Linked DNA regions of Homo sapiens: all the other regions are linked to region 4. Evidence: fine-mapped expression QTL. A gene starts in region 4. Each other region holds a variant in brackets. All regions are shown on one strand. Distances are between the middles of the regions.

Region 1 (5,000 bases), 510 kb before region 4:
CCCAAGTGCCTTGAGGAGCCACATACTTTTCCCTGCGCTGCTTATTTCTGAGGTGGTTAATAATATCGACTCTGGGAAGATTGATTTTTCAAGACTCCTTCCCATTTCTTAATTTATTTCTGCTTACTTAGTTTGGTTTTTTATTTTTAGCAGACATTTTAGCAAAGCAGAAATATATTTTTCCTGTGGATTTTAGACTTGCATTCTTATATTTACGAACTTACAAAAACTTATCCGAGAATTAATTTTTTTTTCAAATGCTTAGGCAAATTAAGTATGATCAAGTCTTCTTTATTGTGTGCTGTAAAAATGGAGTGGCGGCAAGAATGTAATACAGGGCATCTGACTGCTGAGGAAAAAAAAAAATAATACAGGCTGGGCGAGGTGGCTCATGCCTGTAATCCCAGCACTTTGGGACACAGAGTCAGGTGGATCACTTGAGGTCAGGAGTTCGAGACCAGCCTGGTCAACATGGTGAAACCCCATCTCTACTAAAAATACAGAAATTAGCTGGGCACGGTGGCATATGCCTGTAGTCCCAGCTACAGGAGGCTGTGGAAGAATTGCTTGCGCCCGGGAGGAGGAGGTTGCAGTGAGCCCAGATCGTGCCACTGCACTCCAGCCTGGGGGACATAGCAAGACTCCATCTCAAAAAAATAGATGGAATGACAGCACCACAGGGCTACAATCAGCGAAACATAGACTGTGGGAAAATATATAAGATAAACAACCCAATTTCTTCAAAAGAAATTTTGTAATGAATGAAAAAGGAAAGATGGAAGGAGAACCTGTAGTTTAGAGACTCAAGAGATATATCTACAATCATAATGTATAAGCCAGGCACGGTGGCTCACGCCTGTAATCCCAGCACTTTGGGAGGCCGAGGCAGACAGATGACTTGCGGTCAGGAAATTCCAGACCAGCCAGGGCAACATAGTGAAACCCCATCTCTACCAGAAGTATAAAAATTGGCCGGGTGTGGTGGTGCACGCCTGTAGTCCTAAGGCAGGAGGCTAAGGCAGGAGAACAGCTTGAACCTGGGAGGCAGAGGTTGCAGTGAGCCAAGATCACGTAACTGCACTCCGGCCTGGGTGACAGAGTGAAGACCCTGTCTCAAAAAAAAAAAAAAAAAAAAATGGTTTGGACACAGATCAGAGAAATTTGAATATTGACTATATATTTTATGATATTAAAGAATCATTGTTAGCTGGGCACGGTGGCTCACACCTGTAATCCCAGCACTTTGGGAGGCCGAGGCTGGTGGATCACGAGGTCAGGAGTTCAAGACCTGCCTGGCCAAGATGGTGAAATCCCATCTCTACTAAAAATACAAAAAAAATTAGCCAGGCGTGGTGGCGAGCACCTGTAATTCCAGCTACTCGGGAAGTTGAGGCAGAGAATTGCTTGAACCCAGGAGGCAGAGGTTGTAGCGAGCCGAGATCATGCCACTGCACTCCAGCCTGGGCGACAGAGTAAGACTCCATCTAAAAGAAAAAAAAAAAAAAGAAATCATTGTTAATGCATTTACGTGTGATGACAATATTGTGGTCATGTTTTAAAAATAAGTCCTGGCCGGGCGCGGTGGCTCACGCCTGTAATCCCAGCAATTTGGGAGGCCAAGGCGGGCGGATCATGAGGTCAAGAGATCGAGACCTTCCTGGCTAACATGGTGAAAACCCCACCTTGCAATAGGCCGAGATTTCACCACTGCACTCCAGCCTGGGTGACAGAGCGAGAGTTCATCTCAAAAAAAAAAGAAAAAAAAAAAAAGCCTTACTGGCCGGGCGCAGTGACTCAAGCCTGTAATCCAAGCAGTTTGGGAGGCCGAGGCAAGCCTCAGGCCAGACCTGAGGTCAGGAGTTTGAGACCAGCCTGGCCAACATGGTGAAACCCCATCTCTACTAAAAATACAAAATTAGCTGGGCATCGTGGCCTGTGCCTGTAATCCCAGCTACCTGGGAGGCTGAGGCAAGGCAGGAGGTGGAAGTTGCAGTCAGCGAGATCATGAACACTGCACTCCATCCTGGGCAAAAAGAGCGAAATTCCATCTCAATAAATAAATAAATAAATAAATAAGTCTTTTCCTTTTAGACATCCACACTGAAATATTTACAGGTAAAATGACATGATATCTGGACTTTTTAGTAATGTGGAGATGAGTGAGTGGCAGTAATCTTTTTTCATGACTATAAGGTGATGTTAATTTTTGAAGCATTCTCCTCAAAAGCAAGATTAAAAAAAAAAATTTTGTCGAAGCAGAGTGATAGGTGCCTGGGAGTTTGTTGTACCATCCTGTCTGCTTAAGTATCTGTTTAGAATTTTCCATAATAAATAATATTGATTAATAAATAAAAATTGTCGACCGGGCGCGGTGGCTCACGCCTGTAATCCCAGCACTTTGGGAGGCTGAGGCGGGCGAATCACGAGGTCATGAATCGAGACCATCCTGGCTAACACGGTGAAACCCTGTCTCTACTAAAAATACAAAAAAATAGCTGGGCGTGGTGGCAGGCACCTGTAGTCCCAGCTACTTGGGAGGCTGAGGCAGGAGAATGGCGTGAACCCGGAAGGCAGAGCTTGCAGTGAGCTGAGATCACGCCACTGCACTCCAGCCTGGG[T/C]GACAGAGCGAGACTCGTCTCTAAATAAATAAATAAATAAAAATTGTTTTTTAAACAGAGGAATATTTTTCCCTTTGAGAATTCTTTATAATACCTATTTGTTTTCTCGGGTTATGACAGATTTGGAACATTGCTACCAATAAACTGACGTTCTTGAACTCCTTTAAGATGAAGATGTCTGTTATCCTTGGTATCATCCATATGCTGTTTGGAGTCAGCCTGAGTCTGTTCAACCATATGTGAGTTGTTCCATTTCTGTCATAAGAATGTGCATAGTTTAGAGAATGCTTTTGTGTAAAGAAATCATGACATCTTTGGGGAGGGATTAATAACTCAGAACCTCATTCTACATTATAGAAGTGCTTTTCTAAAAATTTAATGGTGTGGCCAGGCGCGGTGGATCATGCCTGTAATCCCAGTACTTTGGGAGGCCAAGGCCGGTGGATCACCTGAGGTCAGGAGTTCGAAACCAGCCTGGCCAACACGATGAAACCCCGTCTCTACTAAAAATACAAAAATCAGCCAGGTGTAGTGGCACGCGCCTATATTCCCAGCTATTCGGGAGGCTGAGGCAGGAGAATTGCTTGAACCTGGGAGGCAGAGGTCGCAGTGAGACAAGATGGCACCACTGCACTCCAGCCTGAGCGACAGAGTGAGACTCTGCCTCAAAAAAAATAAATAAATAAATAAATTTCATGGTCTGGCCGGGTGCAGTGGCTTACACTTGTAATCCAGCACTTTGGGAAGATGAGGCGGGCAGATCACTTGAGGTCAGGAGTTCAAGACCAGCCTGGCCCACATGGTGAAACTCCGTCTCTACTAAAAATACAAAAAATTAGCCGGGTGTGGTGGCGTGCACCTGTAATCCCAGCTACTCTGGTGGCTGAGGCAGGAGAATTGCTTGAACCCAGGAGGCAGAGGTTGCAGTAAACCAAGATAACACCACTGCACTCCAGTCGGGGTGACAGAGCAAGACTCCATCTCAAAAAAAAAAAAAATGTTGATGGTCTTAAATTAGACTTAATATTAGTCCTTTAACAATTTACTGTTCCAGTAAAGATCCTTGAAAAAAACTTGAGCAATTTTCATCAAAATAAGTGAGGTCTCTTTTTTTCCTTGATGTGCAACTCACATAAAATTATTAGCTGTGGACTGGGTGTGGGGGCTCACACCTGTAATGCCAGCACTTTGGGAGGCCAAGGCAGGCGGATCACTTGAGCCCAAGAGTTCAAGACAAGCCTGGGTAACACGGCAAAAGACCCCATCTCTACAAAAAAAAAAAAAAAAAAAAGTTATGAACTGTGGTCTCAAAATGTACTAGATTTTTCCATTCTCTTTCTCATGGAGAGAATGGTGGGGATGGTATTGGAGCCGTTCAAGGTTCAAAAGTTTAAGGCCTGGCACAATGGCTCACATCTGTCATCCTGCACTTTGGGAGGCCAAGGCGGGCAGATCACCTGATGTCAGGAGTTCAAGACCAGTCTGGGCAACATGGCAAAACCCCATCTCTACAAAAAAATGTAAAAATTAGCTGGGTGTGGTGGCGCATGCCTGTAGTCCCAGCTACTCGAGAGGCTGAGGTAAGAGGATTGCCTAAGCCCAGGGAGGTTAAGACTGCGGTGAGCCAATATTGCACCACTGTACTCCAGGCTGGGTAGCAGAGTGAGACCCTGTCTCAAAAAAGAAAAAGCAACAGCAAAACAAAACCAAGGTTCAAAAGTTTGACCGTGATAGTTAATCCTGCATTGTCTCTGTTGTCTCCAGCTTCTGGTTGCTGCTGCTTAAAGTGATAAAGACAGAATTGAGGGGGTATTAAGTAGAAAAATCTAGTGAATACTCCATTCAGTGTAGGAGTGGCCCTAGGCCCATTTACCCTTAACATTTTTTTCTCTCTCCTTTTTAGCTATTTCAAGAAGCCCCTGAATATCTACTTTGGATTTATTCCTGAAATAATCTTCATGACCTCTTTGTTTGGCTATTTGGTTATCCTTATTTTTTACAAGTGGACGGCCTATGATGCTCATACCTCTGAGAATGCACCAAGCCTTCTGATCCATTTCATAAACATGTTCCTCTTTTCCTACCCAGAGTCTGGTTATTCAATGTTGTATTCTGGACAGGTACGTCAGCCCAGAGGCAGACTGTCTGAGATGATTATACTTGATCAGGAAGCCAGATGTTTCTCTGACCCTAAAAAATTTATAACTGCCCTTCTATGGGACAATTCTAGGGCTTTGCCACAAAATGTGATAATTATTTTGAGAAATTGGATAGTGTTATTCATAGATTAGTAAGAAAGTACTGTTGGGGGAAATTTGTGCCATATTTGGAAACTGCGTATGTGATCGGTAGACTTTTATATGATGTACCTTGTCCTTCTTC
Region 2 (8,080 bases), 210 kb before region 4:
CTAGGTCCAGTGGCTCACACCTGTAATCCCAGCACTTTGGGTGGATGAAGTAGGAGGATTGCTTGAGCCCAGGGGTTCAAGACCACCCTGGTAATATAATGAGACCCTATCTCTACAAAAAATTTAAAAAATTAGCCGTGTGTGGCGGCACATGCCTGTCATCCCAACTACTTGGGAGGCTGAGGTGGGAGGATCACTTGAGCCTGGGAGGTCAAGGCTGCAGTGAGCTTTGATCACGCCACTGCACTCCAGCCTGGAAGACAGAGTGAACTTTGTCTCAAAAAAAAACAAAAACAAAAAAACAAAAAGGCACAGTGTAACGTGACAGTAGGCTTTATGAAAATCATCTGCCATGGGATGTGGAAGGGGGAAGGGAAAATACCTGGGAGGTAGACCCAGGAAGCCATCTGTGGACAAAGGAGAGAGTGGCTTATGGGAGGGAAGAGGAGAAAGGGTGAATCTGAGGGTTGTTTCGGGAAAATAAGTTACTCTGTAATCCAGTAACCTATTGACGTAGTAGAGAACATAGTACATAGTAGATGCTCAATAAATATTTGCTGAGTTGATATGATTGGGAGTTAGGGAGAAGGGATGTCAAGGACAACTTGTAGGCCACCAAAGGAGAGTAGGAGAGTAGGCCACCAAAGGAGAGAGGAAATTAGAAATGAAAGAAGGTTTTTTTTAAGGAGGTCATGATGAGCTTGAGTGAAGAAGGGACAGCCAAGACAAGACCCTCCATAGCCATGGATATGGGTCAGGCAGGGCTGGAGAGATGTGGATGGAGGAGTAGTCAGTACAGAGTTGAGAGTGAAGGGAGATGAGCCGGCAAAGCCAGAGACACAGAGGGTTGCAGAGTGTGTCTCAGCGCATACCACCAGTTCTGGAGTGGGAAGCGGGAGGGTAGGTCATCGAAGGACACAGAGACAAAGCCAGAGACGTAGGAGGATGTTAGTCAAAACTGAGTGAGGAGAGAGTTTCAAGGAGGTGGCATAGGATGAATCCTCAGGCAAGACCACACTGGCTTTTGTTAGGAGATCTTTGTGGGAGACCAGTTTCAGTGGAGTGGGGGTGGTGGATGCCAGCCCATGGGGTGAAGGAGGGAAAGGAATGGGAGAAACACCAGGCATCAGGAGCCCTCTCTAAAGCATCTCCTCCATCATGTCATTCACCTTGTGTCCAGGACAAAGACACAATATCACCTGGCACACAAGGCTCATCACCTTCCGTCAAACCACTTGACTCTTTCAGAGTCTTCCATCCAGCCACACTGGTTTCAAAATGGGCCTCTGAAAAGGCTGGGTGCCTTCCTGCCTCTGCCTCCACCTCCTTAAGGGTCTCTCACTCGTAGAGCCTTCTGTATTGGGCTTTCAAGTCCCCTCTGATCCTGCACAGCCAAAGTGACCCCACCCCATGCACCCAGAGTCCTTTGCCCTCTTTTCTCTCCTTACCCAGTCCACCCTCCACTCCTCTGCAGCAGAATTCTCCTGAGACTTGGATCTGATCTCTTGATATTCACCCGAAATTATTTAGTGGCTACTTGTGGTTGTAGAGTAAGGTCCAAATTCCAAAGCCTTTAAAATTCACAGCACATTCAGCTACACTTGAGTCCTCACTATTTTAAGAATAGGCTGTGCCGGGCATGGTGGCTCACGCCTGTAATCCCAGCACTTTGGGAGGCCGAGGCAGGCAGATGACCTGAGGTCGGGAGTTCAAGACCAGCCTGACCAACATGGAGAAACCCCGTCTCTACTAAAAAATACAAAATTAGCTGGGCGTGGTGGCGCATGCCTGTAATCCCAGCTACTTGGGAGGCTGAGGCAGGAGAATCACTTGAACCCAGGAGGTGGAGGTTGCGGTGAGCCACGGTCATACCATTGCACTCCAGCCTGGGCAACAAGAGCGAAACTCTGTCTCAAAAAAAAAAAAAGAAGAAAGAAAGAAAGATTGAATAGGCCGGGCGCAGTGGCTCACACTTGTAATCCCAGCACTTTTGGGAGGCTGAGGCAGGTAGATCACTTGAGGTCAGGAGTTCGAGACCAGCCTGGCCAACATGAAGCCCTGTCTCTACTAAAAATATAAAAATTAGCTGGGCATGGTGCCAGGCAGTCCCAGCTACTCAAGAGGCTGATGCAGGAGAATCTCTTGAACCCAGAAGGTGAGGTTGCAGTGAGCCAAGATTGTGCCACTGCACTCCAGCCTGGGTGATAGAGCAAGGCTCAGTCTCAAAAAAAAAAAAAAATAATAATGTACCATGCCTTTCATGCTTCAAAGCTACTACACTGTTCTCTCTGCCTAGACTGCTCTTCTCTTCCTGATGAACAGCCTGGAATAGAGGAAGGGGTCGCTTTCATGTAATACCTAAGTTCAAACTTCAGCTCTGTTATTTACTAATCCAATGAACTTAGGCAAGTTTCTTAACTCTGTAAACTTCAGTTGCATGTAAGTAAAATGCAGATGATAGTATTTGTTTTGCAAAGATGTTCTGATACGACACAGTGTAATGTAGAAGTGTCCACACATGGTAGGTCCTCAATAGAGATTGCTTTTCTCATCTGTCAATGTTCAGCTCCAAAGACTTACTCTGTGAAACTGCTCCAGCTTCCCCCTATCCCCAGGGTGGTATTCTGTCTTTGGAATAGCATTTTAAAAAATTGTGATTAAAAAACCATAAATATAAAATTTACCACCGTAACCATTTTTAAGTGTACAGTTCAGCAATATTAAGTATATTCACATTGCTGTGAAACAGATCTCCAGGGGTTTTCTTACCTTGCAAATCTGAAACTCTGTACCCATTAAACAACTCTGCCTCTCCACACCCCCATCCCCCCAACCCTGGAACAACATTTCTATCTATATCTCACTTGTAAGTGCCTTACGTATTACGGGCTGCCTTGCAGTAAGTTTAATTACGTATTTATGTGTCTCCTCCACTAAGTTTTGGGCTTCGTTAAGCCTAGGACCTTGTTTCATGCTTCCTTGTATTCCCACAGTACCCAGCACAATGCCAGCACATAGTAGGTGCTCAATAAGTATTCATGGATTTGAATGTGACATTTGCCATTTATTGCCTTATTCTGACTTAACCGTGTGGGATGGGTGTATGTGGGCCTGTGTGTTATACTTTATAAACACTATGGGGCAGAAATTGTGTCCAAAACATGGGAGGCAGCAGTGAAGATAACTCAGGCTCTGGCTTTAGGTAGATGTGGGTTTAAATCCTGTGACCTTAGGCAGACGGAACTTAACCTCTTTGAGCATTGGTTATCTTAATTCTACCATAGCAATATTAATGTGGGCCCCAGAAAGTTACTGGTGGTGTTAAATGTGATAATATACGCAAAGCAGCTGGTATATATACGCATCCTATGAATGTTAGCACCTTTCCTTCTAGGCTGTATTTCTCCTTACACCACACAGTGCCTGGAACACAATAGGTATTTACTTGTTTTAGGTTGGTGGTTGGCAGGAGCAGTAGTGTGAAGGGTGGATTTTTTATTTTTATTTTTTTGAGACGGAGTCTCGCTCAGTCGTCCAGGCTGGAGTGCGGTGGTGTGATCTTGGCTCCACCGTTTCCCAGGTTCAAGTGATTCTCCCGTCTTAGCCTCCCAAGTAGCTGGGATTACAGGTGCCCGCCATCATGCCCAGCTAATTTTTGTATTTTAGTAGAGATAGGGTATCACCATGTTGGCCAGGCTGGTCTTAAACTCCTGACTTCAGGTGATCCGCCCGCCTCGGCCTCCCAAAGTGCTAGGATTACAGGCGTGAGCCACCGCGCCCAGCCTGATGTTTTAAGATCAGAAGCAGGGGGAGAGGGATGAGTGAGATAACAAGCTCTCCCTCCCCATCCTGTTGACCCTCGCAAGGTATATAACGAGTTCATTCTGCCTTCGGAGCGAGATGGATTTCTCAGACGGATTCGGGAGATTATCCAGCGAGTGGAGACCCTGTTGAAGAGAGACACTGGCCCCATGGAGGCTGCTGAAGACACCCTAAGCCCCCAGGTCAGACCCCTTGGTGGACACTTCCAGGGGAAATGGACTCTCTGCTCCAGGGTTTATTACTCTCTGCCCT[C/T]AGCGGTCCCCTTGGATTTAACTCCTCTTCATCTCTGGGACCCTAAAACAGTGGCGCTTTTTTTTTTTTTTGAGATGGAGTCTCACTCTGTCGCCCAGGCTGGAGTGCAGTGGCACGATCTCGGCTCACTGCAAGCTCCGCCTCCCGGGTTCACGCCATTCTCCTGTCCCAGCCTCCCGAGTAGCTGGGACTACAGGCGCTCGCCACCACACCCGGCTAATTTTTTTTGTATTTTTAGTAGAGACAGGGTTTCACCGTGTTAGCCAGGCTGGTCTCGATCTCCTGACCTCGTGATCCGCCCTCCTCGGCCTCCCAAAGTGCTGGGATTACAGGTGTGAGCCACCGTGCCTGGCCTAAAACAGTGGCTCTTAGCCCATTTGAGAATATGATGAAAGCCATGGACTCTTGTTCTAGAAAACTTGTTCAATACATACTTTTCTTTTAACTCATTATTTTGAAATAATTTCAGACTTGTGGAGAGAAGTTGCAAGAATTATATAAAGAACCACTGGATACCCTTTGCCCAGATTTGCCACTTGTTAGTGTTTTGCCACCTTAGCGTCATCATTGTCTCTTCCTCTCCCCTCTGTATGTGTGCATACATAATATATTTTTCGGAACCACTTAAGAGTAAGTTGCAGACATCATGCCCTTTTACCTCTATACATTTCAGCACATATGCTTCTGAATCCCTTGAAACTCATGTACAGACTCCTATAGGTTCATGGGTCCTAGCTTAGGAACCCCGGTCTGACACCTTCCATCTCAGACTGCTCTTCCCCACTGTGACTGCGGACTCCTTTTTCTGCCTCAGGAGGAGCCAGCACCATTACCTGCCCTGCCCGTCCCCCTCCCAGACCCATCCAATGGTATGTACTGAGTTGTGTCCTTGCTCATCCCAACCCCTGGGGTTGCTCCTGGGAAGGGCATAGGGCATGTGGGACTGTGGTCTCAACATACCCTCCTTCCCAGAAGAGCTCCAGAGCAGCACCTCCCTGGAGCACAGGAGCTGGACAGCCTTCTCCACCTCCTCATCTTCTCCTGGAACTCCTTTGTCTCCTGGAAACCCATTTTCCCCTGGAACCCCCATTTCCCCAGGTCCCATCTTCCCCATCACTTCTCCCCCATGTCATCCCAGCCCCTCCCCATTCTCCCCCATTTCTTCCCAGGTCTCCTCAAATCCCTCTCCACACCCCACCAGCTCTCCACTTCCATTCTCCTCCAGCACACCCGAGTTTCCGGTCCCACTCTCTCAGTGTCCCTGGAGTTCTCTCCCCACGACTTCTCCACCTACGTTCTCTCCCACTTGTTCTCAGGTCACTCTTAGTTCCCCTTTCTTTCCTCCGTGCCCCTCCACTTCTTCCTTCCCCTCCACCACAGCAGCCCCTCTCCTTTCTCTGGCTAGTGCCTTCTCACTGGCTGTGATGACTGTGGCCCAGTCCCTGCTGTCCCCCTCACCTGGGCTCCTTTCCCAGTCTCCTCCAGCCCCTCCTAGTCCCCTCCCTAGCCTGCCCCTTCCCCCTCCCGTTGCTCCTGGTGGCCAGGAAAGCCCTTCACCCCACACAGCTGAGGTGGAGAGTGAGGTGAGTAGAAAACCAAGAGGGATGATTAGGGAGACTCCACTCTGCACTCTTCCCTTCTCATGGCCCCCCACTTTCTAGGCCTCACCACCTCCTGCTCGGCCCCTCCCAGGGGAAGCCAGGCTGGCGCCCATCTCTGAAGGTAAGGCCTCTGACCACTGACCTTCCCCTGCCATTATCCCTACTCACTGTCTGTCCTGTCACTGCTCTCCTTTCCTCATGCCTTCTTCCTCGTCGCCCTACAGAGGGAAAGCCGCAGCTTGTTGGGCGTTTCCAAGTGACTTCATCCAAGGAACCGGCTGAGCCTCTTCCCTTGCAGCCAACATCCCCCACTCTCTCTGGTTCTCCAAAACCTTCAACCCCTCAGCTCACTTCAGAGAGCTCAGATACAGAGGACAGTGCTGGAGGCGGGCCAGAGACCAGGGAAGCTCTGGCTGAGAGCGACCGTGCAGCTGAGGGTCTGGGGGCTGGAGTTGAGGAGGAAGGAGATGATGGGAAGGAACCCCAAGTTGGGGGCAGCCCCCAACCCCTGAGCCATCCCAGCCCAGTGTGGATGAACTACTCCTACAGCAGCCTGTGTTTGAGCAGCGAGGAGTCAGAAAGCAGTGGGGAAGATGAGGAGTTCTGGGCTGAGCTGCAGAGTCTTCGGCAGAAGTGAGTCTCGGGAGGATGGAGGAGTGAGAGGAGAACCTGGGAGAGCAAGGTGTGTGGCTAGCCCTTTCATGCCCTCCGTGCATCCTCAGGCACTTGTCAGAGGTGGAAACACTACAGACACTACAGAAAAAAGAAATTGAAGATTTGTACAGCCGGCTGGGGAAGCAGCCCCCACCGGGTATTGTGGCCCCAGCTGCTATGCTGTCCAGCCGCCAGCGCCGCCTCTCCAAGGGCAGCTTCCCCACCTCCCGCCGCAACAGCCTACAGCGCTCTGAGCCCCCAGGCCCTGGTGAGACTGCAGTCACCCAGCTTCCATCTTTTCCCTGAGACCCCTTTCTGTCGACTGTTTTTCTCCAGGCCCTGGGGGTCTGCCCCGGGGGAATAGACCCCCTCTCCCCACCTCCCCTTTCCTCACTTAGTGCTCTCCTTCCCCCATCCTGCTCCCAGGCATCATGCGAAGGAACTCTCTGAGTGGCAGCAGCACCGGCTCCCAGGAGCAGCGGGCAAGCAAGGGGGTGACATTCGCCGGGGATGTTGGCAGGATGGTGAGGGCGGGCCCAAGGGAGGGAGAGCCCAGGGAATGGTACCTGGCTGCAGCTTCGCCTTCCTCCCACCTTGGAGGTTTCTTCATCACTTTTTCTTTTCCCTCCAGTGAATTCAGAACAGAAGCCATGTATCTCCCCCACACCAGGGCCCACCATGGAGCTTGTGTTCTCAGAATCTGATGCTTTCTGATCAACAAAACTGAGCAAGGAAGATCCCAACACTGAAGGGGTAGAAGGCCAGGGGGGCATGGAGAGTGCAGCTCCATTATAGTGAAGAGCCAAACATATGTGAACTGTTTGCTGTGTGGAGGTGTTAGTTCTGCTGCCTACCATCTTCATCTCTAGCACCTCCCCTGCCAAGAGTCAACCACTAAGCAATCCCACCCAAGCCTGGATGCTTCTAGAGGGGCCCACTCCCAGCTGGGAGAGTGTAGGGGATATGCTCACACCACATTAGCAGCAACCAATAAAAATGCTGGAAACAAGAACGCCGTGAATCCATATGCCATGCCTTAGGAATTGGGGGAGCAAAGACTTGTGGGGTGAGGCAGGGGAGGATTTAAAAGGGACTTTCTTTTCACAATGGGAGGCAGGGGTGGAAGCTGCCCAGCCCTCTGGCTTCCTGCCATCAGTTAATGAGGAAACTGCAAGGTCAGTGATCCACTTGACTAAGTTAGGATCCCCTCCAGACCCCACCCTAGACCTGTATAGGCAGGTACCAGGGAAAGTTAAAAGAATGAAGACTGCTTGTCTTTCACCCTTCATCCACCTCTCTCTCCCTCCCTCTCTCTGGGGATGGGAAAAGCAGTAGAGTTACAGTATGTTCTTGTGGGTAGAGGACAGAAGAGTGACCTTCCTTCCCCTAAGACGTGGGTTCAGTCTCAAACTGCCCAGTGATCTCTCCCTTAAATCAGGTGGAAAGATCTCATGGAAAAAGTAATTCTAGTTAAACATTTACAGCTCCCTGGGGCAATGCCACCACTGCAGCTACTGCTTGTGAAGCTTTCCAGCATGAAGTGCCATATGCTGCCTCTCAGCCTCCATACTCACTTGACTCCAGGAGAATGACTCAGTTTATTATTCTCAATTTGACCCTATGTATCCCACTGTAGGCTCAAACACTGCACAGAGCTGCCACGTCTAACCTCGTAACAACTGCGTCCCTGGAAGGTGAAGGGGGTAAACCACAAAGTCAGAAACTTTGGGAAAAGCCACGGTCGCATGCAC
Region 3 (8,080 bases), 740 kb before region 4:
ATTTCCTTTACCAGATATTCCCAAATGAGTACCATAATAAACATTTAGAGAAGTCATTAAGTGTGACTAATGGAATTATAAGAAAAAGAAATCCATAGCCTAGCAGCCTTCATAGGTATCACCATGAAGGGGAAAAGCCAATGCAGAAAATATATTGAAATAATACAAAGTTCAGGGTTAAAACAAACTCAACCATTTTTTTCAAAACATCTTCAATATGAAATGAATAACTTAGCAGAGTGTGTATATATATGTGTGTATATATATACATATATGTATATATATACACATATATATGTGTGTATATATACACACATATATATGTGTATATATACACACATATATATGTATATACACACATATATGTGTGTGTATATATACACATATATATGTGTGTATATATATGTGTATATATATGTGTGTATATATATATGTATATATATGTGTGTGTGTGTGTGTGTGTGTGTGTGTATATATATATATATATATATATATATATATATATATATATATATAAAAAAACAAAAACAATTTTTTTTTTTTTTTAAAGAGAGACAGGGTCTCTGTCCATTGCCCGGGCTTGGGAGTGCAATGGCACCATTATAGCTCACTGCAGCCTCCACTTCCCAGGTTCAAGCAATCCTTTCACCTCTGTCTCCCTAACAATTTATTATATTATATAACAATATAATTCTCCATAAGCTTCTGTGTAAAAATATACAGGCTACCACGAAGCACAGGAAATAACACAGTCCTGAAGTTCAAATTATTTAAACTCTAAAAATGTTAAATGAAATTATGATGATTTTAACATAGTTCAACAAAAGATGTCAAAAAACAGGATACTATACCAAAAAATTAACAAAAACATCACAAACTCTTTTTTCTGCTTCTAAAAAGAAAACACTGATAACAAAAAACAAATTCTACGTTCTAAGACATATCAATACACACAGCCATTTTAAAGATAACTTTTTTTTCCTGATTACAAAAGGATTCCCTGTATTATCATCTGTTTTTTTGTTTGTTTTTATTTGTTGTTTTTGAGACAAGGTCTCACTCTGTCACCCAGGACGAATGCAGTGGCTCAATCACAGCTCATTGCAGCCTCGAACTCCCAGGCTCAAGTGATCCTCCTACTTCATCTTCCCAAGTAGTTGAGACCACAGGCATGTGCCACCAGGCCCAGCTAATTTTTTAATTTTTTGTAGAGATAGGGTCTTGCTATGTTGCCCAGGCTGATCTTGAACTCCTGGACTCAAGTGATCCTCCCACCTCAGCCTCCCAAAGTGCTGGAAATATAGGCATGAGTCACTGTGCCCAGCCATAATCTGTTTATTATAGAAAAATGGAAAGATACTAGAAAGCGCGCACACACACACACACACACACACACACACACACACACACAGGGAACTCCACGACCCAGAAGAAATCTTTTTTCAGCGCCTGTTCTTTTTTCCAGGCACAATTGTATATGATTGTTTGTAATTTCATTTTTCATTTAGTAATATATAGTGAATTTTGTGTAGGTCATTAAATATTGTTTTATAACATAATTTAAATAGCTGGACAGTATTCTATTGGACAGCTATACACAGGTGTAATAAATGATTTAGTTTATTAAACCTCTAATGGAAATACCAAGATTTTTCCAATTTATTGCTATTTTAAGTAACACTCCTTTTGTACAAATCTTTTTTTTTTAATTTATTTATTATTATACTTTAAGTTTTAGGGTACATGTGCACATTGTGCAGGTTAGTTACATACGTATACATGTGCCATGCTGGTGTGCTGCACCCACTAACTCGTCATCTGGCATTAGGTATATCTCCCAATGCTATCCCTCCCCCCTCCCCCCACCCCACAACAGTCCCCAGAGTGTGATGTTCCCCTTCCTGTGTCCATGTGTTCCCATTATTCAATTCCCACCTATGAGTGAGAATATGTGGTGTTTGGTTTTTTGTTCTTGCGATAGTTTACTGAGAATGATGATTTCCAATTTCATCCATGTCCCTACAAAGGACATGAACTCATCATTTTTTATGGCTGCATAGTATTCCATGGTGTGTATGTGCCACATTTTCTTAATCCAGTCTATCGTTGTTGGACATCTGGGTTGGTTCCAAGTCTTTGCTATTGTGAATACTGCCGCAATAAACATACGTGTGCATGTGTCTTTATAGCAGCATGATTTATAGTCCTTTGGGTATATACCCAGTAATGGGATGGCTGGGTCAAATGGTATTTCTAGTTCTAGATCCCTGAGGAATCGCCACACTGACTTCCACAATGGTTGAACTAGTTTACAGTCCCATCAACAGTGTAAAAGTGTTCCTATTTCTCCACATCCTCTCCAGCACCTGTTGTTTCCTGACTTTTTAATGATTGCCATTCTAACTGGTGTGAGATGGTATCTCATTGTGGTTTTGATTTGCATTTCTCTGATGGCCAGTGATGGTGAGCATTTTTTCATGTGTTTTTTGGCTGCATAAATGTCTTCTTTTGAGAAGTGTCTGTTCATGTCCTTCGCCCACTTTTTGATGGGGTTGTTTGTTTTTTTCTTGTAAATTTGTTTGAGTTCATTGTAGATTCTGGATATTAGCCCTTTGTCAGATGAGTAGGTTGCGAAAATTTTCTCCCATTTTGTAGGTTGCCTGTTCACTCTGATGGTAGTTTCTTTTGCTGTGCAGAAGCTCTTTAGTCTAATTAGATCCCATTTGTCAATTTTGTCTTTTGTTGCCATCGCTTTTGGTGTTTTAGACATGAAGTCCTTGCCCATGCCTATTTGTACAAATCTTTAAACATATTTCAGATGTCCTAGAATGAAATTCATCTAAATGAAACTGCTAAGTCAAAGGGTATGTACTCTTCTTTTTTTTTTTTGAGACGAAGTCTCGCTCTGTCACCAGGCTGGAGTGCAGTAGTGTGATCTCGGCTCACAGCAACCTCTGACTCCCTGCCTCAGCCTCCCGAGTAGCTGGGATTACAGGCACGTGCCACCATGCCCAGCTAATTTTTGTATTTTTAGTAGAGACGGGGTTTCACCATGTTGGCCGGGATGGTCTTGAACTCCTGACCTCGTGATCCGACTGCCTTAGCTTCCCAAAGTGCTGGGATTACAGGCCTGAGCTCCCATGCCCAGCTTGAGTATGCACTCTTTTAAGCTCTCAATACATGTATCAAACTGCCATCCAAAAAAAGCACCCATTTACATTTCAACCAATGAGTATGAAAGTGCCAGTTTCCCACATTCCCAAGCAACACTGCTCTTATTTTTCAATATTTTTAGTCTTCATAAATCTGTTAACTGAAAAAACTTGTCATTTTTATTTGCATTTCTTGATTTCCAGTATGGGTGAACACTGTTTCATATGATTATCGGCTATTTGTAGTTCTTCTTTTGTTCATTTTCTATTATGGGAATCATCTTTTTCTTACTACTTATATAGATTACTTATATATTACGAATATTTACCCATAATGCTTTGTCATATATATTAGAAATATTTTTCTTATTTTGTCACTTAGCTTTGGTTTCTGGCATTTTTTGGCATAAAGAAGTTTTAAATATTTATGTATACATATAAAAAGACATATGTGTATCTATAAGATGTATCTTCTTTTATTAGTTATTAAAGCCACTTATATCCTGTTCAAATTTACCAATAAAACTGGAATGTAATGTTAAGTTCTGTGCAAACTAGACCTCTTCACATTTGGGTAATAAAAATTCAAAACTAGCCAGGCTCAGGGGCTCACACCTGCAGTCCCATCTACTCTGGAGGCTGAGGTGGGAGGATCACTTGAGCTCAGGACTTTGAGACCAGCCCGGGCAACATAGTGAGACCCCACTCTTTAAAAAATAATAATAATAAATTAAAATAATAAATAAAATTCAAAACCATAAATTTTGAGAATATCACATTTTTGGACAAAATTTTAAATGTGTGTCTAAAGTAATACGTTTTCTTACTTAAGGACCCACTCCTGGCACACTTCACTCATCCTGGGCAACAGAGCAAGACACTGTCTCAAAAAATAAAAAAAAAAAAAAAAAAATCATTCCCTTAAAATTATATGCTTTTTGGCCCGGTGCAGTGACTCATTCCTGTAATCCCAATACTGTGGAAGGTTGAGGTGGGAGGTGTGGAGGTGGAGGTGGGAGGGATCACCTGGAGACATAGCAAGACCCCTGTCTCTATTTTTTTTTAACTATGTGCATTTTTCTGGTATTGCAAAGTCAAGGGATCTTGCCTCATCACCAACTCAGCATGTGAATTGTAGCCATGCCACTCAGGAAGCCAAATATTTTCTATTTTGTTTTGATACCTTCAACATGAGGAGAAAGGCCAATCTCTTCATACATTACAATGAAATTAGTATTTTTACTTGATATTTAAACTCACTGCAAGATAAACTCATTTGTAAAACATGACTACACTCAGAGTTTCCATATATGTAGTCAGGCACCACATAATGACGTTTCAGTCAATGACAGACCACATATATCACTGTGGTCCCATAAGATAATAAAACGTAGCTGAAAAATTCCTATCCTCTAGTGACGCTGTAGCCATCATAATGTTGTAATGCAATGCATGACTCACATGTTTGTGGCAATGCTGGTGTAAACAAACCCACTGCACTGCCAGTCATGTGAAAGTCTAGCACATACAATTGCGTGCAGTACATACTTGATAATGATAATAAATGCCTATGTTACTGGTTTATGTATTTACCATACTTTTTATCGTTATTTTAGAGTGTACT[CCTT/C]CTACTTAAAAAAAAAAGTTAACTGTAAAACAGCCTCAGGCAGGTCCTTCAGGAGGCATTGTTATCACAAGAGATGACAGCTCCATATGTGTTACTGCCCCTGAAGACCTTTCAGTGGAACAAGATGTGGAGGTGCAAGACAGTGATACTGATGACCCTGACCCTGTGTAGGCCTAGACTAATGTGTGTGTTTATGCCTTCACTTTTAAGAAAAAGTTTTTAAAGTTTTGAAAAATTAAAAAGTTTTTAAAGTTTTGAAAAATTAAAAATTATTTAAAAAGAGAAAAAGTAAAAGAATAAAAACATAAAGAAAATATTGTTGCACAGCTGTACATGTTTATGTGTTAAGCTAAGTGTTACTACAAAAGAGTTTAAAAGTGTAAAAAAGTAAACAGTTGGCCGGGCACGGCGGCTCACACCTATAATCCGAGCACTTTGGGAGGTCAAAGTGGGTGGATCACCTGAGGTCAGAAGTTTGAGACCAGCCTGGCCAACATGGTGAAACCCCGTCTCTACTAAAAATACAAAAATTAGCCAGGCGTGGTGGCACACGCCTGTAATCCCAGCTATTCGGGAGGCTGAGGAAGGAGAATTGCTTGAACCGGGAGGTAGAGGTTGCAGTGATCCGAGATCACGCCACTGCACTCCAGCCTGGGCCACAAGAGCAAGACTCCATCTCAAAAAAAAAAAAAAAAAGTAAAAAGTTTACAAAGTAAAAGTATTACAGTAGGCTAAGGTTATTATTGAAGAAAGAAACAATTTTCAAAATACATTTAATGTAGCCTAACCAGACAGTATTTTTAAAATCTACAGTAATGTACAGTAATGTCCTAGGCCTTCACATTCACTCACCATTCACCCACTGAGTTGCCCAGAGCAACTTCCAGTCCTGCAAGCTCCATTCCTGTTAAGTACCCTATATAGATGTACCATTTTTTATCCTTTATGCCATGTTTTTACTGTAACTTTTCTATATTTAGATATGTTTAGATACACAAATACTTACCCTTGTGTTACAATTGTCTACAGTACTCAATACAGTATACATGTTCCACAGGTTTGTAGTCTAGGAGCAATAGGCTTTATCATACAGCCTAGGTGTGCAGTAGGGCTCACCATCTACGTTTGTGTAAGTACCCTCTATGATGGTACCACAATGACAAAATCGCCTAATGCATTTCTTAGAACTTTGTCACCATGTATCATTAAGTGACAAACGACTATAGTTACGTAACAATAACCAAAGAAAAATACAAAAAGAGGGACTATTTACATTGTATCCTTACATATTAAACCTTCCATGCCTTCGGAATAAGAATCTAGTATCCAGTTCTCACTATACATAGCTTTCCCTCACTTTCTATCAGAAATGAGATAGGAGTCCCACCTTCCTGGCATCAGAAACAGATCACCAATCCTGCAAACAAATTCACAGGGTGAACTGTTTCATTTTTAAAGAGCTGTAGATTTCTGTAGATCTCTAATTTGCTACTTTTCCTAAACCTAAAAGATGACCAAAAGATTTTTAGAAACATTAAACAAAAAAACAGAATTAGCATTATTTCTAACAGAACATTTTACCTATTTAAATATACTGTAGAATGAATGCTATATTACAAAGCTGATGAATTCCAATTTTTAGTACTTTAAGAGATCAAGTGTTCAAGTTTCTTTTTATATAGGCTACAATGACATGTATGAATGTAACTTAACATTTAGCCCAGGTTAGATTTTTTAAAATCCCACTCCTTCAAAAACAGTGACTTGCCACCAGCTATAGGCTCTGAATTTATTTAATTTATTTATTTTTTTGAGATGGAGTCTCGCTCCGTCTCCCAGGCTGGAGCACAGTAGTGCGATCTCGGCTCACTGTAACCTCTGCCTCCTGGGTTCAAGTGATTCTTCTGCCTCAGCCTCCTGAGTAGCTGGGATTACAGGCGTGCACCACCACACCTGGCTAATTTTTGTATTTTTAGTAGAGACAGGGTTTCACCATGTTGGCCAGGCTGGTCTCCAACTCCTGACCTCACGTGATCCGCTTGCCTCGGCCTCCCAAATTGTTAGGATTACAGGCGTGAGCCACTGGGCCCGACCTAGGCTCTGAATTTTAGACAACAAAAAATAGTTTCTCACAAACTTTTTAACTTACTCTCACCTAAAGGCTGGAAAACCCCAGTGAAGGCTTTTAAAACTCATCAGACATAGAAAAAAAGAAGCAGCTTTAATTGTAGGATCTCACTGACACAAACATAAGGAAATTCTGAGTTATAGATACCTCACATTAAGCTTTTTCCACTGACATTGTAACTTCTGTCAACATTCAAAGAAAATTCAACCCTGGTCAAAGGTGACAGTTGACAATCCTGGAAGCTAACATCCTCTGTTTATTTGAACAAGTTTATACTCTGCACAGGGAATTGAAGTTCTTCTTGTCTGTGACTTGATCTCCCAAAGTTAAAGCACTACGCTTTAGGGTTGTGAATTCTGTTTCCAAGACTTAACTTCACAATCCACTCCCAAGGAAAAGTGCTGAGAGAAAGTAAGCATCATAAATGAAAAAAAAAAAAAAATCTGAGACTATTTTCTAATGGCCTTTGCAGAGCTCTAGACATACAATAGTTCAGTTGCCTTAAAAATTCGCCCAAATAGGCTGGGCATGGTGGCTTATGCCTGTAATCCCAGCACTTCGGAAGGCCAAGGCAGGAGGATCACCTGAGGTCAGGAGTTCGAGACCAGCCTGGCCAACATGTCAAAACCCCGTCTCTACTAAAAATACAAAAATTAGCTGGGCATGGTGGCACATGCCTGTAGTCCTAGCTACTCCGGAGGCTGGGCAGGAGAATCTCTTGAACCCAGGAGACGGAGGTTGCAGTGAGCCAAGATCGCGCCACTGCATTCCAGCCTGGGTGACAGAGCGAGGCTCTGTCTCAAGAAATAATAATAATAAATTAGCCCAAATAAGTAAAATTCTTAAATCTGTCTCAGAAATCATGACTAATGCTCTAAAAAGCTTTAATGCAACAAGAATAGGACAGAAATCCCCGCAAAATAAAGTTGTAAATAAAATGAGTGGGATTGTTGAGTTCTCAGTACAGACGTGCATGTCAACACAAACCCACTACATTGGCACAAATGATCCCTTTGTTTGTAAACAGAGGCCAAGGAGACAGCTTATAGCTCTTCTTCTATGATGTACACGGTAATGCTAGGGGAAGAAGAATGAAAGACAACTTATAATAAAAATTAAGACTTTCTCTTCTTTAATATAATTTCCACCAGAAGTATATACTTTAATTGGAAA
Region 4 (8,080 bases):
AAAAAAAGCCTGTGTCTGCATGCTGTATGTATTACCAGACTGTGAAAAGGAGAACATTATTGAATAGGAAACACTGGGTGGGCTGGGCACGGTGGCTCACGCCTGTAATCCCAGTACTTTGGGAGGCCAAGGCGAGCGGATCACCAGGTCAAGAGATGGCCAACATGGTGAAACCTTGTCTCTCCTAAAAAATACTAAGAATTATCTGGGCCTGGTGGTGCACGCCTGTAGTCCCAGCTACTCGGGAGGTTGAGGCAGGAGAATTGCTTGAACCCGGGAGGCGGAAGTTGCAGGGAGGGCTGAGATAGCACCACTGCACTGCAGTCTGACAACAGCAAGACTCCATCTCAAAAAAAAAAAAAAAAAAAGACGCTGGGTGATGGATGAGGGGCTGGGAAAATGTTAAATCTGCCTTAATGAGATTTATGCTGCCTCTGTCCTTAGCCTGATAATCCCTGTGAAGAATTGTGTAGCCTCCCTGGCTTCTACCCATTACATGCCAGGAGAACCTCTGCCACACACACTCTGCCCCTCCTTGTGACAACCAAAGGCCCCTGAGTGGTGGGGATCAGGTATTTTTGATTGAGAACCACTAACCTGAAATTCTCAAACCTTAGCACAGATAGAGGTCACCTGGATGGTTTGTTAAACCACGGATTGCTGAAATCCTGCCCTCAGACTGATCCAGTAGGTCTGAGTTTCTAGCAGGTTTTCAGGTGACACTGGTACTGGTGTAGGTGAGATGGGGACCACCCTGGAGACCTGCTCCTGGTGGTAACGACAGATGCCTTTGGTGAATCCCTGAGCCTAGAGCAGCTGTTTAATAGGACAAGGGAGTGCTCCTCAAATGGCCTGGCTGGCAGAGACTTGAAAGAAAGTGATCAAAGGAGCTTTGGGGCATTGGGTTGTGCCACTACTGTGTAGTGCAGGAGAGACATTTGGTTCTTAGGATCTGGCATTTTATCTCTCAATGGACTGTAACTAGTCATGTTTCATGAATGAAATAGGTGCTCCATCTGAATGGTTCTGTCGCTAGAGGGAACTAAGATTCAAACAGGCCAGTTTGCCAAGTCTGCTAGGTACCACACTTGCACTTGGGAACCAGAGGGGGCGGGGTGGCGGGAAGGGGCCAAAAGTAGGATTGGTGAGTAACTGGAAAAAACTTTGGGCTAGGTTACTAGGAAACTTTTTTTTTTTTTTTTTGAGACAGAGGCTTGCTCTGTTGCCCAGGCTGGAGTGCAGTGGCACGATCTCGGCTCACTGCAAGCTCCGCCTCCCGGGTTCACGCCATTCTCCTGCCTCAGCCTCCCGAGTAGCTGGGACTACAGGCGCCTGCCACCATGCCCGGCTAATATTTTTGTATTTCTAGTAGAGACGGGGTTTCACCGTGTTAGCCAGGATGGTCTGGATCTCCTGACCTTGTGATCGTTCTACCTCAGCCTCCCAAAGTGCTGGAATACAGGCGTGAGCCACCGCGCCCAGCCACTTTTTTTTAAGATGGAGTTTTGCTCTTTCACCCACCCAGTCCGGAGCGAGGTGGCACTATCGGCTCACTGCAACTTCTGCCCCGCCCCGGGGTTCAAGCGATTCTCCTGCCTCAGCCTCCCAAGTAGCTAGGACTACAGGAGTGTGCTACCACACCCAGCTAATTTTTGTATTTTTAGAAGAGATGGGGTTTCACTATGTTGGCCAGGATGGTCTTGAACTTCTGATCTCATGATCCACCCACCTTGGCGTCCCAAAGTGCTGGGATTACAGGTGTGAGCCACTGCACCCAGCCAGGAAACTTTTTAATTGAATCTTCACACACTTAAGTATTAAGGCATCTCTATTGAGACAGACTTCTATTAAGTAGCTTGCCTACTCAGGGTCACAGAAATGGGGCTGAATTTAAAACTTTTGAGGAAAAATACAGCAAATTTTTTTCCACTCTACCTCAAGGCCCAAGTGTAAATACTGTTCCTACCAGGTTTGGATCCATGCTTTGATTCCTAGCCCTGTGACCTTGGGCAAGTTTCTAATGCTCTGTGCCTCAATTTTCTCATCTGTAAAGTGAAGAAAATAGAACCAACTTCATGGCATTGTTTTGAAGAGTTAATTCATGTAAGGCACAAGCGTGTTGGGCAGACGATAGCTCTCCTTGCTGGCCACTGTTAACAGTTTTGTGAACTTTTTTCTTTTTTTTTTTTTTGAGCCAGAGTCTCGCTCTGTCACCCAGCTGGAGTGCAGTGGCACGATCTCGGCTCACTGCAAGCTCCGCCTCCCGGGTTCAAGCGATTCCCCCGTCTCAGCCTCCCGAGTAGCTGGGACTACAGGCGCATGCCACCACGCCCGGCTAATTTTTGTATTTTTAGTAGAGACAGGGTTTCCCCATGTTGGTCAGGCTGGTCTCAAACTCCTGACCTCAAGTGATTCACCGCCTCAGCCTCCCAAAGTGCTGGGATTACAGGCGTGAGCCACTGCACCCAGCCTTTTTTTTTTTTTTTTTTTTTTTTTTAAGAGACAAGATTCACTGTGTTGCCCAGGCTGGCCTCGAACTCCTGGGCTCAAGCAGTCCTCCTGCCTCAACCTGCTGGAACTATAGGCACATGTTACCAGTGGGCCCAGCTGCTGGGATTGGCACTTTTTTTTTTTTTTTAGTCAGAATCTCACTCTGTTGCCCAGGCTGGAGTGCAGTGGTGTGATCCGGCCCGGCTAATTTTTTGTATTTTAGTAGGGACAGGGTTTCACCATGGTGGCCAGGATGGTCTCGTGATCCACCCGCCTGGACCTCCCAAAGTGCTGGGATTACAAGGCATGAGCCACTGCGCCTGGCAGTTTTGTGAACTTGAACTGTGGACTTTATCTGTCCTGATTGTGTTTCTCATTCATTCAGCAATTATTATTTTTTGAGATGGAGTTTCGCTCTTGTCACTCAGGCTGGAGTGCAACAGCGCGATCTTGGCTCAATGCAACCTCTGCCTCCCAGGTTCCAGCTATTCTCCTGCCTCGGCCTCCCAAGTAGCTGGGATTACAGGAATACACCACCACACCCGGATAATTTTTGTATTTTTTTAGTAAAGACGGGGTTTCACCACGTTGGCCAGGCTGGTGTCTAACTTGGGATCTCAGGTGATCTGCCCACCTGGGCCTCCCAAAGTGCTGGGATTACAGGTGTGAGCCACCGCACCCGGCAGTTTTGTGAACTTGAACTATGGGCGTTATCTGTCCTGACTGTGTTTCTCATTCATTCAGCAATTATTGTTTTATTTATTTTTTGAGATGGAGTTTCACTCTTGTCACCCAGGCTGGAGTGCAATGGCACCATCTCAGCTCAATGCAACCTCTGCCTCCGGGTTCCAGCTATTCTCCTGCCTCGGCCTCCCAAGTAGCTGGGATTACAGGAATGCACCTCCACGCCCGGCTAATTTTTGTATTTTTTTAGTAAAGGTGGGGTTTCACCATGTTGGCCAGGCTGGTCTCTAACTCCTGACCTCAGGTGATCTGCCCGCCTGGGCCTCCCAGAATGCTGGGATTACAGGTGTGAGCCGCCGCACCCAGCTCATTCAGCAATTATTTTATCAATGTTCAATGTGCCCAGCATTATTCTAGGCTCTAGGGAAATAATCCATTGACAAAGCAGGGTCTACCAATGGGCTTGTCGGAGATTGCTGGGAATGGTTGATGGGGGCCAGTTTGCAGTTGGGGTGAGGTGGCTTTCCTTGAGGCAGCCTGGCTGAGTGAAGTCGACTTTGCTGACCAAGAAGGCTCCTCCCAGGGGTGGGGAAGCCTCGGCAGGGGGCGGCATGTGAGCGCCAGAAGGCAGGGATTTCACGGAAATGAAAGTGGAAGCAAACAGCCTGCGAGCAGAGCCTCCTGAGGTGTATTTCGGGTCTTGCTGGGGCTGAGAGAGACCACAGCCCTTTGGGGGGTACAAACAAGAGTTCAGTTGCTGTGAATTCTGCCACTGTGCCCAGCTCTGAAGCCTCAGCTCTTGCCAAACAGACCCGAGACCCATGTCAGCCCCACTGGATGCCGTAAGTGAGGAGGAGGGAGTTGGGAAGTGGGGAAACAGGAGTAATCCTCTTGGCTAGGAACCTGCAGATATCTCAGGGCCTGGCAGCCAAGCCTCACCCTGCCCATCTCAGACCTGCTGAAGGGCTGGGGAGAAACACAGGGCTGGGGTTGCCTCTGCAAGAGTTGGTTCCCTAACCTATTGCCTCAGACAGGAGGAGCTCATTAAATCCTGTGTGTGTACACTTCTCTGGAGAGAGAATCTGTAGTTTCCATCAGATACTCAGCGGGTTCTGTGACCCAAATAACAATTGTTCTAGGCCGGGCGTGGTGTCTCACGCCTGTCATCCTAGCACTTTGGGAGGCCTTGGCAATACAGTGAAAATCCGTCTCTACTAAAATACAAAAAATTAGCTGTGTGTGGTGGTGTGCGCCTGTAATCCCAGCTACTTGGGAGGCTGAGACAGGAGAATCACTTGAACCTGGGAGGCGGAGGTTGCAGTGAGCCGAGATTGCATCACTGCACTCCAGCCTGGGTGACACAGCGAGACTCTGTCTAAAAAAAAAAAAAAAAAAATTAAACTAAAGGAATTAGGCTGGGTGTGTTGGCTCACACCTGTAATCCCAGCCAGCACTTTGGGAGGCTGAGGCGTGTGGATCACTTGAGGTTAGGAGTTCGAGACCAGCCTGGCCAACATAGCAAAACCCCATCTCTACTAAAAACACAAAAATTAGCCAGGCATGGTGGCACACACCTGTAATCCCAGCTACTAGGGAGACTGAGGCGGGAGAATTGCTTGAACCTGGGAGGCAGAGGTTGCAGTGAGCCGAGATTGTACCACTATGCTCCACTCTGGGCAACAGAGGGAGACTGTCTCTCACACACACACACACACAAAATTTATATATATATATATATATATATATACTATAAGAATTATACTTTAAGAATCACACTAGGTAATCCATAGATTAACACGGTAAAAACTTATCCCACTGCTTAGCACCTACAGAGCATTCAATATGTGTTTCTTCTTAATATTATTATTGCCAACCTTTTCAGAACCCCAGTTCCCCAAGGACAATCCCTTTTTTTTTTTTTTTTTTGAGACGGAGTCTCACTCTGTCTCCTAGGCTGGAGTACAGTGGCATGATCTCGGCTCACTGCAACCTCTGCCTCCCGGGTTCAAGCGATTCTCCTGCCTCAGCCTCCCAAGTAACTGGGAGTACAGGCACGTTCCACCATGCCTGGCTAATTTTTTGTATTTTTAGTAGAAATGGAGTTTCACCGTGTTAGCCGGGATGGTCTTGATCTTCTGACCTCGTGATCTGCCCCCCTCAAGCTCCCAAAGTGCTGGGATTACAGGTGTAAGCCACCATGCCCGGACTTTTCTTTCCTTTTTTTTTTTTTTTTTTTTTTGAGATGGAGTTTCACTCTTGTTGCCCAGGCTGAAGTGCAATAGCATGATCTTGGCTCACTGCAACCTCTGCCTTCCAGATTCAAGTGATTCTCTTGCCTCAGCATCCCAAGTAGCTGGGATTATAGGCACACATGCCACCACGCCTGGCTCATTTTTTTTTTTTTTTTTTTTTTTTGAGATGGAGTCTCGCTCTGTCACCCAGGCTGGAGTGCAGTGGCAGGATCTCGGCTCACAGCAAGCTCCGCCCCATGGGTTCATGCCATTCTCTTGCTTCAGCCTCCCAAGTAGCTGGGACTACAGGCACCCGCCACCACGCCCAGCTAGTTTTTTGTATTTTTGGTAGAGATGGGGTTGCACTGTGTTAGGCAGGATGGTCTCGAACTCCTGACCTCGTGATCCGCCTGCCTCAGCCTCCCAAAGTGCTGGGATTACAGGCGTGAGCCACCGTGCCCAGCATGGCTAATTTTTTGTAGAGACAGGGTTTCAGCATGTTGGCCAGGCTGGTCTCGAACTCCTGACCTCACATGATCTGCCTCCCTTAGCCTCCCAAAATGCTGAGATTACAGGCTTGAGCCACAGCACCCGGCTTTATATACGTTAAATTGGGCCATCTTTTTCAAATAAAAATCCAGATTTTTTGTTTTTTGGAGACAAGATCTCACTGTTTTTTCCAGGCTGCAGTGCAGTGGCTGGATCATGGCTCACTGCAGCCACCTCCACCTCTAGGGATCAATAGATCCTTCCATCTCAGCCTCCCGAGTAGCTGGGACTACAGGCATGTGCCACCATGCCTGGCTAATTTTTAAATATTTTGTAGAGGTAGAGTTTTGTCCTGTTGCCCAGGCTGGTCTCAGACTCCTGGGCTCAAGCGATCTGCCTCCCTTGGCCTCCCAAAGTGCTGGGATTACAGGCATGTGCCACAACAACCTGCCCAGATTTTTTATTTCTATTAAAAATGGGAAGATTAGGGGGCCTGGGTCCGTGGCTCCTGCCTGTAATCCCAGCACTTTGTGAGGCTGAGTTGGGCAGATCACTTCAGGTGGGAAGTTTGAGACCAGCCTGGCCAACATGGTGAAACCCCATCTCTACTAAAAATAAAAAATTAGAGCCGGGCACGGTGGCTCACTCCTGTAATCCCAGCACTTTGGGAGGCCGAGGTGGGTGGATCACGAGGTCAAGAGATTGAGACCATCCTGGCCAACATGGTGAAACCCCATCTCTACTAAAAATACAAAAATTAGCTGGGCATGGTGGTGCGTGCCTGTAGTCCCAGCTACTCGGGAGGCTGAGGCAGGAGAATCGCTTGAACCCGGGAGTCAGAGGTCGCAGTGAGCCGAGATCCTGCCACTGCATTCCAGCCTGGCGACAGAGCGAGACTCTGTCTCAAAATAAATAAATAAATAAAAAATAAAAAAAATTAGCCAGGAGTGGTGGCAGGTGCCTGTAATCCCAGCTACTTGGGAGGCTGAGGCAGGAGAATCTGTTGAATCCGGGAGGTGGAGTTTGCAGCGAGCCGATATTGCGCCACTGCACTCCAGCCTAGGCAACAGAGGGAGACTCCGTCTCAGAAAAGAAAAAAAAATAGAGGGCTGGGCGCGGTGTCTCACACCTGTAATCCCAGCACTTTGGGAGGCTAAGACGGGCAGATCATGAAGTCAGGAGATCGAGACCATCCTGGCTAACACGGTGAAACCCCGTCTCTACTAAAAATACAAAAAAATTAGCCAGGCGTGGTGGCGGGCACCTGTAGTCCCAGCTAATCGGGAGGCTGAGGCAGGAGAATGAAGTGAACTGGGAGGCGAAGCTTGCAGTGAGCAGAGATCGCGCCACTGCACTCCAGCCTGGGCGACAGGGTGAGACTCCGTCCCAAAAAGAAGAAAAAAAAAAAATAGCTGGCATGATGGCACACGCCTGTACTCAGGAGGCTGAGATGAGAGGATTGATTGATTCCAGGAGGTCGAGGCTGCAGTGAGCCATAATGGAGCAATTGCACTCCAGCCTGGGTGGCATTGAGACTTTGTCTCAAAAAACAAAACAAAACAAAAACATGGGTAGATTTGCTGTGGGGGGAAACTTTGTTATGGCTAGAAGCAGTTTACTTTAGAAAGGACATGCTCTTCCCAGTGCGTCAGAGTCCCCACCACTCTCTGTTATCCTACATGGCTCTATTAACTCATTAATGTCATCCAACTGGCCCTTAAAGGCACTGTGTTAGCACTCTCTGAGTTACAGAAATATGAATAACTAATGATCTTTTTCACTATTCATAAACCAGCATAATTTGGTCAAGCTCTAGTATTCTTCTGCTAAAAATAGAACAAACTCACACTGAATTTCTTTGGTGTCCTCTGTAATGTGCTCCTTTACCGTCATTCATTCACTTCATTTCTTCATTCAACACAGTTTTACCGGACACATATTTTGTGCCGGAGATCTTGCTGGACACAAGGAATACAGAGATGGTCAGAACAGAGTCCTATCTTTCCAAGAGATCTCATGCTTCTCTGAGCTGAACTTCTTTATCAGGATTCCTAACCACAGGGTGAACTCTGCTCTATTCCACAAACAAAGGTGCATTTATTGGTATCCCTGGTGTCACTTCCCTGCCTGTGATGTCAGTTCTCTCTCTGGACCCATTCCAGATCACACCCAGCCTAAAAGGTTAC

Direction of the effects. Alleles are on the strand shown, and positions count from the first base shown. SD is a standard deviation of normalised expression in the study named. Not every link is listed here.
In carriers of allele C in region 3, the expression in prostate of the gene that starts at base 3,832 in region 4 tends to be lower than with CCTT alone (large effect, 1.2 SD a copy in GTEx).

What was found. PIP is the estimated chance that this variant, and not a neighbour inherited with it, causes the effect.
Region 1: its variant is the best candidate, but not a certain one, in a credible set for the expression of IFI35 in lung (TOPMed, PIP 0.80).
Region 2: its variant is the best candidate, but not a certain one, in a credible set for the expression of IFI35 in tibial nerve (GTEx, PIP 0.60).
Region 3: its variant is the best candidate, but not a certain one, in a credible set for the expression of IFI35 in prostate (GTEx, PIP 0.51).

What each region holds. Positions count from the first base shown.
Region 1 is chr17:42,496,186-42,501,185 of GRCh38, forward strand. It overlaps ATP6V0A1 (ATPase H+ transporting V0 subunit a1), which reads left to right. Exons shown (of 22, transcript NM_001130021.3): 15 at 2,739-2,857; 16 at 4,522-4,738. Among named protein-coding and RNA genes, the nearest start is that of MIR548AT, 3.9 kb to the left of the region's middle. The variant T/C (reference allele first, on the strand shown) is at 2,619.
Region 2 is chr17:42,789,726-42,797,805 of GRCh38, forward strand. It overlaps WNK4 (WNK lysine deficient protein kinase 4), which reads left to right. Exons shown (of 19, transcript NM_032387.5): 12 at 3,867-4,004; 13 at 4,889-4,943; 14 at 5,047-5,657; 15 at 5,736-5,796; 16 at 5,900-6,308; 17 at 6,398-6,597; 18 at 6,756-6,853; 19 at 6,961-7,341. The coding sequence ends at 6,963. It overlaps COA3 (cytochrome c oxidase assembly factor 3), which reads right to left. Exons shown (of 2, transcript NM_001040431.3): 2 at 7,900-8,080. Among named protein-coding and RNA genes, the nearest start is that of COA3, 4.9 kb to the right of the region's middle. The variant C/T (reference allele first, on the strand shown) is at 4,075.
Region 3 is chr17:42,262,501-42,270,580 of GRCh38, forward strand. All of the region lies in intron 1 of STAT5B (signal transducer and activator of transcription 5B), which reads right to left. Among named protein-coding and RNA genes, the nearest start is that of STAT5B, 9.8 kb to the right of the region's middle. The variant CCTT/C (reference allele first, on the strand shown) is at 4,777.
Region 4 is chr17:43,002,953-43,011,032 of GRCh38, forward strand. IFI35 (interferon induced protein 35) reads left to right here and starts at 3,832. Exons shown (of 7, transcript NM_001330230.2): 1 at 3,832-4,016. The coding sequence starts at 3,996. RPL27 (ribosomal protein L27) reads left to right here. Exons shown (of 5, transcript NM_000988.5): 5 at 1-7. RefSeq lists an enhancer at 3,692-4,001.